4 separate regions of the Homo sapiens genome follow, and all the other regions are linked to region 4. The links come from fine-mapping of genetic effects on gene expression. A gene starts in region 4. Each other region holds a variant in brackets. All regions are shown on one strand. Distances are between the middles of the regions. Region 1 has its middle 36 kb from the start of ZNF638. Region 2 has its middle 43 kb from the start of MPHOSPH10. Region 3 has its middle 50 kb from the start of ZNF638. Region 4 holds the start of PAIP2B (poly(A) binding protein interacting protein 2B).

Region 1 (2,687 bases), 69 kb before region 4:
AAATCTTAATGGAAGGAAGAAAGGATGGGAGGGAGGCAGTGAGGAAAGAATTTTGATGTAGTCCAATTTAGCTTTTCTTTCTCTTTATAGTTAGTATTATTTGCATCCTATTAAAAGTCTTCTTATACCAAGGTTATGAAGATATTCTCATATATTATCTTCTAGGAACTTCATTGTTTTGCTGCTCACATTTAAAACCACAACCCACCTGGAACTTTTTTGTTTTGTTTTTTGTTTTGAGACGGAGTTTTGCTCCCGTTGCCCAGGCTGGAGAGTGCAATGGCGCAATCTCGGCTCACCGCAACCTCCGCCTCCCGGGTTCAAGCTGTTATCCTGCCTCAGCCTCCTGAGTAGCTCAGATTATAGGTATGCACCACCACGCCCAGCTAATTTTGTATTTTTTGTAGAGACTGAGTTTCTCCATGTTGGTCAGGCTGGTCTCAAACTCCCAACTTCAGGTGATCTGCCCGCCTCAGCCTCCCAAAGTTCTGGGATTACAGGCATGAGCCACGGTGCCCGGCCTTTTTTTTTTTTTTTTTTAATAGTGTGACGTTGGGTCAAGCTTTGGTTTGATTTTTACTTTGTATGTTTTTTCCTTCCTTTTAAAAATAATAATATCTGATTGTCTCCATGCCACATACTGAAAAAAATTTAATTATTTCCCTTCTTCTCTTTAGGGTCAATTTGCTCATACATGAAGTGTCCAGATATATGTGATTCTGCTTCAGCACTCTCTATTCTAGTCTTTTGATCAATTTTTCTATTCTTCCATTAATATTACACTTTCTTAATAATTACAGTGTCATGTTGTCTCTCTCTTTTTTTTTTTAGTAAAAAAAAAAAAAAAGGCTGGAAGCAATCCTCCCACCTTGGCCTACTAAAATGCTGGGATTACAGGTGTGGGCCACCATGACCGGCCATATTAAGTCTTGATATCCAATATGGCTAGCCTTCCCACTGTTCAAGATTGTCTGGGCTATTCTAGGTCTTTTGCATTTCCAGATACATTTTAGAATCAACTTGTCAAGTTCTCAAAAAAAAAGAAAAAAAACTTACTGGATTTTGAGTTGGGACTGCATTGACTCGGTGAATCAATTTGTTAAGAAGTGAAATCTTTACAATATTGAGACTTCTAATCAACAAAATATGGTATATCCTTCTAATTACTCAGAACTTCTTTACCTTCTCCCAATAACATTGTATGGTTTTCTGCATTAATATTATGACTATATTATGTTACATTATTTAATGTTTACGATGCTTTTGAAAACAGTATCCCTTTTCAAAATTTATTTTGCTTATTCCTACAATATAGGAAAATAATTGATTTTTGTACACTGGCCTTAAATCTGGCAATAATTTAGTAATTTTTTGCATCTACATTCATGAGGAATATTGGTCTGTACTTTTTTTTGTATTCTTTATCTAGTTTTAGAATAAAAGGCCAGGTGCAGTGGCTCATGCCTGTAATCCCAGCACTTTGGGAGGCCGAGGCAGGTGGATCACCTGAGGTCAGGAATTGGAGACCAACCTGGC[C/T]AACATGGTGAAACCCCCCGTCTCTACTAAAAATATAAAAATTAGCCAGGCATGGTGGTGCACGCCTGTAGTCCCAGCTACTTGGGAAGCTGAGGCAGGAGAATCACTTGAACCCAGAAGGCAGAGGTTGCAGGGAACTGAGATCATGTCATTGCACTCCAGCCTGGGCAACAGGGTGAGACTCCATCTCAAAAAAGAAAAAAAAAAAAGTAATTCCTAGCTTCATACAATGAATTAGAAGGACAAAACCACATTATCTCAATTGATGCAATAAAAGTATTTAAAATTCATCATCCTTTCATGATAAAAATACTCAACAAACTAGGAATAGAAGGAAACTGCCTCAAAACAATAAAAGCCAGATACAAAAAACCCACAGCTAACATCATATTCAATTATGAAAAACAGAAAGCTTTTCCACTAAGATCAGGAATAAAACAACGATACTCACTTCAGACACTTTTTTTTTTTTTTGAGTTGTAGTCTCACTCTATTGCTTACGCTGGAGTCCAGTAGCACGATCTTGGCTCACTGCAACCTCTCCCTCCCAGGTTCAAGTGATTCTTATGCCTCAGTCTCCAGAGTAGCTGGGATTACTGGTGTGCACCATCATGCCTGGCTAATTTTTGTATTTTTAGTAGAGACAGGGTTTTGCCATGTTGGCCAGGCTGGTCTAGAACTCCTGAGCTTATGTAATCTGCCTGCCTCGTCCTCCCAAAGTGCTAGGATTACACATGTGAGCCACCAAGCCCGGCCTCACTTTTGCCACTTCTATTTAACGTAGCGTTAGAAGTTCTGGCCAGAGTAATCAGGCAAAAAAAAAAGAAATAAAAGACATCCAAATTGGAAAGAAAGAAGTAAAATTATCTCTATTCACAGATGACATGGTCTTATATGTAGAAAACCCTAAAGATTATACACACACGCACACACACACACACACAACCCCACGAGAACTAAAAAACAAATCCAGTAAAGTTGCAGGGTGAAAAACACAAAAATAAGTTGGTTTCTATACAATAGCAATGAACAATCTGAGAAGGAAATTCAAAACAATTCCATTTGTAATAGCATCAAAAAGAATAAAATACTTAGTGCGAATAAACTTAAGGAAGTAAAAGACTTGTATAATGAAAATTACAAATTGCTGA
Region 2 (2,687 bases), 53 kb after region 4:
TGCTCCTCCTCCTCCTCCTTCTGATCCCCTCCCTCCTTCCCCTCTGCAGCTCTCCACTCCCCTCCTAGACTTTCTTGATAGAACCAGAAGGGAATGCTTGAATTGGCCTGGACTGCCCAGCCTGTACGGTTCTGGGAGTGGGGTGGGTGGATGGAGTGACCTCCACAGGCCCTCCCAGCTCTGCCCTTCTGTGGTCCTGTGGTTGTGACTGGATCTCCAGGATGGACGTTGACCTTTCCAGGTCTAAGCACTGAAGATGCTTTGGTGCTTCTCCCCAGGAAGAAATTCAAAATAAAAGCAAAACCACAAACCACACAACTTTTATATGCACGCTAAAAATAAAATGGCTTTTTTGTTAAATTTTCCAATTGCAAAAGTCTGAATATTTGAAAGCTGTACCTCCTTTGCCCTCTTTTGAGTCTTGCTCTGTCACCCAGGCTGGAGTGCAGTGGCTAGATTCTGCTCACTGCAACCTCCGCCTCCTGGGTTCAAGCGATTTTCCTGCCTCAGCCTCCAGAGTAGCTGGGATTACAGGTGTGTGCCACAACGCTGGGCTAATTTTTGTATTTTTAGTAGAGACGGGGTTTCACCATGTTGGCCAGGCTGGTCTCAAACTCCTAACCTCAGGTGATCTGCCCACCTTGGCCTCCCAAAGTGCTGGGATTACAGGCGTGGGCCACCACATTCAGCCCAAGCCGGTTCTTTTGTTAACCCTTTGTTCTGTGATCTTTGTCACGCCATCTCTTTTCAAAAGCTGTGTGCTATGTTTTGTTGTTATTGTTGTTGTTGTTGCTGTTGTTGTTTGAGACAGGGTCTCCCTCTACCACCCAGGCTGGAGTGTAGTGGTGCGATCTCAGCTCACTGCAACCTCTGCCTTGAGGGCTCAAGTGATCCTCCCACCTCAGCCTCCTGAGTAGGTGGGACTATAGGTGTATGCCACCATGCCCGGCTAATTTTTGTATTTTTTATTGTAGAGACAGGGTCTTACCATGTTGCCCAGGTTTGTCTCAAACTCCTGGGCTCAAGCAATCCTCCTGCTTCAGCCTCCCAAAGTGCTGGGATTATAGGCATGAGCCACTGTGGCTTGCAAAAGCTGTGATATTTACGGGTTGGGGGGAACATCAAGAAAGTAGAAGCTTGCTTGGCTTGCTGGATCTTGGGAGATTTTGTTGCCATCCTAAGTCTTGGGCCTCTCTCACCTGGAGCTACAGCAGACATTTCAGCCACACCTCACAATCCTGATTTCAGCTCTCCCCTCTGCCACCACATGACAACCAGGAGCTTCATTAGAAAGCCTTAGCCTGACATTGTAACCTTTGCCCTGCATTGGGCAATGCCTCCCCGGGAGCCTCCCACCCTCCACTGGCCTCTATTTGTGACATTCACCTTAATGTTTGAGTGCCAAGTTCCTCCCTCTTGGTGTCCCACATCAACAAATCAGATGAATACAAAAAAAATTACATAATTCCTATGAGCCAACCAGGGGGAAAGTGAAGACCAACCATCTAAGGAAATGGGGGGTGGATTATCTATCACCCCTGGTTCAAGTC[A/G]ATTAAAGACATACAGACTGATCATGGATTCAAATATGGCCTGATCTAGAAGTGTGGGGAAAAAATGCCAACTCTATCAGCTTTGTCCTCAGAACCTGACACGAAAGCAGAGTTCACATCTACTGTCCCGATTCTGACGGAGGCCACCTGTGGTAGGCAGTTCCACTGGTTTGCGCTGCGCATGTATGAATATAGCCTCCAGATCTCCCCCAGCTTCCCACCCTATCCTTCATGCAGAGGTCACTATATGTTTGGATAGATGCCAGGGTGCCACGCGGCCATGTCTGCCAATGGGCAGGGGGACAACTATGAAAAGGCTCTGCACTTGGGGCCCTCAGGGGTACCACTGGCTCCATGAGCCTCCTATGGCAGGACAGGCTGATCCTGGTGTGCAAAGCCTGGTCATCTCACTTCCATTCCTATTCTGGGCCAAGCACTCCTGGGGCCTCAGTCTCCTGCCCCTGTGCCAGCCTATGGGTGGTAGGATTCTGAGGTCCATGCTGGGTTAGAGCAGTAGGTCTCAGCCAGGAGATATTGTCACAACTAGGGAGAAGGTGCTGCTGGTATCTAGTGGGTCAAGGTCAGGGATGCTACTAAACATGCTACAGTGCACAGGACAGCCCTCAGAACAGAGGTCTATCTAGTCCAAAATGTCAAAGAGAAAGCCTGGGTTATGGGAAGGGGTGTCCTCCAGAGAGCATGGCCTTAGATTTTCAGCCCCTCTAAGAATGAGATGTTCCTTGTTTATTTTCTCCATCTCTCATTGGCCTAGTTGTAGGGGAGGGAAGAGTTAGACCAGGGTAGGATCCAAGCACTCCTGATCCTCTGAGCCAAATATGGTTCTCCAGATAGCACAATTTCCTCTAAAAATGCAGTCCGAGATGGAATGGGTAAGAAACCTGCTTCCTTCCATCTTCTAGTACATTGGCTTTAAAAACTCATCGTAAAAATATGAAAAAGACATTTACTGTAGCACTGTTCATAACTGAAAAAGATAAAAAAAAAAAACAAAAAACCTAAATGTCCACTTAAAAGGACCGGATAAATAAATTATGATACATTCATGCAGTGGAATTATATGCAGTTGTTAAAAGAGTGAGGTAGCTCTAAATATAATGATATGAAACAATCTCCAAG
Region 3 (2,687 bases), 55 kb before region 4:
GCAGGAGAGAGTCTTTGACCTCCAGGTTACCAGTAGAGGGCATGAATAAGGCATGAAGCAGAAGAAGGATAAGTGAAAGCCTATGTATTAACTGTGGGGCCCTATGCTCCTGTGCAGAAGAGTTCACAGAACATGCCTGAGACTACTATGCTTTGAAAGTCTTACTTGCAAGCTTAGCCCATGGCTGCTGTCTGGTAACTTTGATTTCAGGAAGGTTCCCACCATTCCCTAACAGTGAGTGGCTCACTGTACCTAAACAGTGTAAAAATGTAAGAATAGTGGTTTATGCTGAGCACCTGATTTCCTTCTAGGAGTGTGGAATTATGGTAAACGCTAGGCAGAGGGTGCCTATGTAACCTGCACCCAGTTATAACCTTGCGCACTGAGTCTAAGGAGCTTCCCTGGTAGACAACATTTCACGTGTGTGGTCACAACCATTCAGCACATCCTGTGGAACTCCACTGAGAGAGGACCAGGGAGCTTGTGCCTGGTTTCTCCCAGACTTCACTCCATGCACCTTTTCCCTTTGCCAATTTTGTTTTGTAACCTTTCACTGCAATGAGCCATAGCTGTGAGTATGACTATATGCTGAGTCTTGTATGTCCTCCTAGTAAATCGCTGAACCTGAGGGTGGCCTTGGGGACTCTCAACACATTCCCCTTTCCTGTCCCTACTCCCAGGATTACAGCCTATGCTGCACAGGGCTGGAAGCGTCTCCCTGAATAAACTGAAAAGCCAAATAAAGAGGAAGAAAGACTTCAAAAGGCAGAAACAATCAAGGAAACAAAAGAAAACTCCAAAAACAAAACTTGGAATTAATATCTTTAAAAAGATATGAAAATATATGACACTCATAAAAGCAGGATGCTTTGAAAAGAAGCAATTAGAGAACAAACAGCTCTACAAAATTAAAAATATGATGATCATAATGAAATACTGAATAGAAGGGTTAGGAAGATAGCTGAAAAAAATCATCCAGAGAAAGTGAAAAAAAAACAAAAAAATGAAAAATAGAAGAGATGATAAGAAAATTAAAGGATCAATCCAGGTGGTCTAAAATCCAACTAAAGAAAAAGAGAACAGAATAAATGGAAAGGAATAAATTATTAAAGTAAATTTCATCAAACTAGGGGAAAAAGCGGGGGGAGGTCCTCAGGTTAAAACGGCCCACCAAGTGCAGAGCACAAGAAATGAAAAAAGAATCACACCAGTGAATATGACACAAAA[T/C]CACAAACTTTCAGAAAACCAGAGAGACTATACTAAAAAGCTTTCAGAAAGGGAAAACAACCCATATAAAAAGAAACAGGAAACTTAATTATATCAGATTTCTTAACAGCAACACTAACAGCAGACACACTAGAATTAAACCTTTAAAATGCTGAGGAAAAACTTAGACTTTAAAATCAGCCAAACTGTAATTCAAATGCAAGGGTAGAATAAAGACATTTTTAAGACATGCAAGGACTTAGAACATTTATCTTTTCTTAGAAAGTAACTGGACTAATTGTTTCAGCAAAATGAAGAAAACCAGATTCATGATCTAGATAACAGAAGGTCCAAATCAGGAGAAAGGTGAAGGAAAGTCCCAGGACTATAGCTATGCAAACCTAGACAACTCTATCTTCTAGGTCTTCTATTCAGAGTTCATTTTGACTATCATATTTTTAATTTCATAGAGCTCTTTCTTGTTGTCTTATGGTTTCTTTTCATAGCGACCTGTTCTTATTTTGTAGGTGCAATCTCTTTTGTTATCTCTTTAAATACATTAATCTTTAGGTTTGTTACAAACTTAGAACCAGACCAGATTAGAGTATGAAGAATGGAAGCTATAGGAAGGAAGTTTAAGGAAAAAATGGCATTGGTAAATCCTTACATTTGTTGGCCCATTTGATGGCACTGCAGCATTTGGAAAAAATTAACCACGGGATGAAAGAAAATTAGGTAAATTAGTTTATCATTTGGCTCAAAGGCTAGTCATGTTTACCTGGTCATAATAATATAAAACCTAACTACTAATTTAACAAAAAATTATGACAGAATCTAAATTGGGAGGATGGAAGAAGGATACAGAAGAAAGAGAGAATAAAGAGTTAAATCCTCACTTTATCAATTCTTAATTTATAAAAAAGTAATACCTAAACTATTTAAGTCAAGAAGTGGTTATAAAGTATACTTTTTCAGAAAGACAAAGGTAAATACTAGAAGAAAAAGTTAAAGGACTTCAAAGTGTTTGCCTTCAAGGAGAGAAACAGAGTAAAAAGAAATTAACAAGTGTCTGGTATTTTTGTGGTAAATCTTCAAGAACTGCTTTATTTGTTCAATCATGTACATGTATTACTTTGATTTTAAAGTAAAAATTTTAAAATAATTTAATTATTTAGCCTAGAAGGTTTTACAACCCCTTATCTCATGCTTAAGCACTCTAAGTGATTCCTTTTTCACACAGCAAGAGTGTTGTACCCAATACCCCAACCACAAAGAAAACTCTTTGTCTCTTCAAGGTCCATCTTTTCTGTTTTCTCTTTTTTTTGAGACAGAGACTCACTCTGTCACCCAGGCTGGAGTACACTGGCGCGATCTCAGCTCACTGCAAACTCCACCTCTCAGGTTCAGACGATTCTCCTGCCTCAGCCTCCCGAGTAGCTGAGTAGCTGGGACTACAGGCATGCACTACCACGCCCAGCCAA
Region 4 (2,687 bases):
GTATTTTTTTTTGAGTCGCAACCTCACTCTATTGCCCAGATTGGAGTGCAGTGGTGCGATCTTGGCTCACTGCAACCTCTGCCTCCCGGGTTCAAGTGATTCTCCTGCCTCAGCCTCCCGAGTAGCTGGGACTACAGGAGCCCGCCACCACGCCCAGCTAATTTTTGCATTTTTAGTAGAGACGGGGTTTCACCATACTGGCGAGGCTGGTCTAGAACTCCTGACCTTGTGATCCGCCCGTCTCGGCCTCCCAGAGTGGTGGGATTACAGGCGTGAGCCACCGCGCCCGGCCAAGTTTTATTTTTTTAAAGCACTCAAGAAGTTAGGTTTGTTTCTAGAAACGTGGAAGCATCCGTCTGCTTCCTTCCAGCGTCCCTTTGCTTCCTTCCAGCCTCCCAAGGAGCCCAATTCCTTAATTTTCCCTACAGAGAATAGCACCAGGTCCAAAGCAGCCTGAATCAAAGCTCCTCCTTTGGTAATTGACAGCTGAGGGAAATCCTACTGAGGCCCACCCCCACCCTCCTCCTTGCTAGGCTGACAGGCAAAACTCGGTGGCAGTGGCTTCCAGCTCAGCCAATAGACGAAGCGGGAGCAAGAGCCTGTGTAAACAAACCCAGAGTGCGGCGCCTTGGTCTCCTCCCCCACGAGTGGGCCGGGCGCATCCTTGGCCCAATGCCTATCCCAGGCTAGCGTAGCGTCCTTTCAGCCAATCAGAGCCGGCATCTCCCTCAAGGAGGTGTTCCACCACAGGAAAAAAAAAATGAAGGAAGAGAAAAGACAGACATTAAAACCAATCAGAAGCTGAAACTTCTGAGGGAGTGGGCGGGCACTGCTTCACATTTAGACCAATAAAAACCACATATGCCATTCTAGGTGACCGAACGGCATCTTCTTTGGCCCAATAGACGAATGGGGCGGTGCCCGGCAACCAATGGCTTGGGTTCGGGGGCGGGGCGAGGAGGCAGTGTGCAGTAAGAGATAACCTGGCAAGTGGTAGTGGCGCTTCTCGGGTGCTGTGCTTCACGTTTTGGTACTAAAGGCCGAGACTGTTGTGGCGACGGCGACCTCTACGGCAACGGCTTAAGCTCTCGGAGGAGTGGCAGAGTACGATCTGAAGGAGGGGCTTCTGGTTAGCCCAGGTGGGCTCGGGTGCCCGGGCTGCTGGGGAAAGGACTCGAGGGAAACGCCGTTCTCCCGGCTCTGGGGGCGCCCTGCGCCTCCCTTTCTGCCGCCGTCGGGGCTGTGAAGGGCGGCACGCGCCTGCCCGAGCTCCTGTAGGGAGGGAAAGCGCGCGGGGTCCCACGTCGCGGCCATCGGCGAAAAGGGGCGTCCGCTGGGGTCAGCCCCTGCCCCTCGGGAGCAATAGGGGGTTTTCGTCCCTTTCCCCCCCGCACAGGTGCTCTGTTTCCCCCCGACTCCCACCCAAGTTCCTGACTCCCCTCAGCGTCCTCCTAACACTCGAACCGAATTCTTGGCCTGAGTCCCATTTCTACCCAGGTGCAACAATGCTAGGCAAATTGACCCGCGCGGCATCCCCCGCCCCTCTCCCCGGGCTGGAGCGGGAGGGATTGCGCGTCGTGCCCTTCCCCTATTCGCGGCCCCTGCGCGTCCTCTGCCTTTTTATACTTGCTCCATCTCCCCCTTGACTCCAGCCCTCATTCTTCATGCCTCATTTGCCTGGGAGACGTTCGCCACTTCTCTTGTGCCTTGCGGTCCGTGAGTGAGCCCATCACCCCCTACCAACCCCTAAATTCCATTCTCATCTCTCCAGAAAACTAACATTTTCCACTTGCCTCTTCCAGGCAGCTGGAAGGTGAACTGAGAGAGGCAGAATACGCAGAACAGGGAGTTTGGCAAGGTTGGGAACTTTAATGTTTTGTTCCTGGTAGACTGTTTTTGCCTTCAAATGGCATTTGACCATTATACCCGCTCTAGAATCTTTGTCCTAATGCAGTTCTTTTGGTGGTAATTGCTGAAAATGCAGTTGAAAAGGGCTAACTAGAAGCAAGGGATTTAAATTTTGTTACTATTATTTTCAGTAAATTGAATTGGATTATACTTTAAACAGCTTAACTGGGGTTTCTGGGAGTTTGTAGTGTAAGGGCCTGGCTACCCTACTTTGTCATAAAATATAGAACATACTTAGTTGTACAGCACAGTGTGATTCGATCACACCCAACCTATGAAGGGATAATAACAGCATTGAATCTGTCCAAAAACAACATTCCCTGTTCCCTTTTCACCTTCATAGTATATTCGTTTGGTTTCTAGTAATGTCGGTTCTAGCCATATGTTTTTTGATAACAGTACAAACTATGCTGTGCCTAAGTAAAATTATGCCAACAATTTTATGGGGAAAAGCTAATGCACTGCTCTTAGCTTTGATTAAGATTTTAGACGTTTGAAAATATAAATTCAGATATTGGACAGTGAGGGTTTTATTTTGAAGGTTGGAGGAGATTGAAGTGTTGGGGTAAGACTGATAGGCTCCTCTGGCTACTTGTATATCGGGGTGGGGAGAATATACAGGTTTACAAAATCTTGTAAATTCTCACAGTGCTTAGTTTCCTGACTTTTCAAAAATTGGAATTGTTTTTCCTAGCTTTCAGTGGAGAAATGTAAGCTATGAGTTTAACATCATGTTCACTGTGTTTTGGCCAGGATTTTGCAAGCTTTTGTGGAAAAAA

What was found. PIP is the estimated chance that this variant, and not a neighbour inherited with it, causes the effect.
Region 1: its variant is the best candidate, but not a certain one, in a credible set for the expression of PAIP2B in whole blood (TOPMed, PIP 0.76).
Region 2: its variant is the best candidate, but not a certain one, in a credible set for the expression of PAIP2B in whole blood (TOPMed, PIP 0.89).
Region 3: its variant is the best candidate, but not a certain one, in a credible set for the expression of PAIP2B in whole blood (TOPMed, PIP 0.59).

What each region holds. Positions count from the first base shown.
Region 1 is chr2:71,294,835-71,297,521 of GRCh38, reverse strand. No RefSeq gene overlaps it. Among named protein-coding and RNA genes, the nearest start is that of ZNF638, 36 kb to the left of the region's middle. The variant C/T (reference allele first, on the strand shown) is at 1,537.
Region 2 is chr2:71,171,937-71,174,623 of GRCh38, reverse strand. No RefSeq gene overlaps it. Among named protein-coding and RNA genes, the nearest start is that of MPHOSPH10, 43 kb to the right of the region's middle. The variant A/G (reference allele first, on the strand shown) is at 1,551.
Region 3 is chr2:71,280,037-71,282,723 of GRCh38, reverse strand. No RefSeq gene overlaps it. Among named protein-coding and RNA genes, the nearest start is that of ZNF638, 50 kb to the left of the region's middle. The variant T/C (reference allele first, on the strand shown) is at 1,228.
Region 4 is chr2:71,225,380-71,228,066 of GRCh38, reverse strand. PAIP2B (poly(A) binding protein interacting protein 2B) reads left to right here and starts at 964. Exons shown (of 4, transcript NM_020459.1): 1 at 964-1,139. RefSeq lists enhancers at 679-818, 1,034-1,534.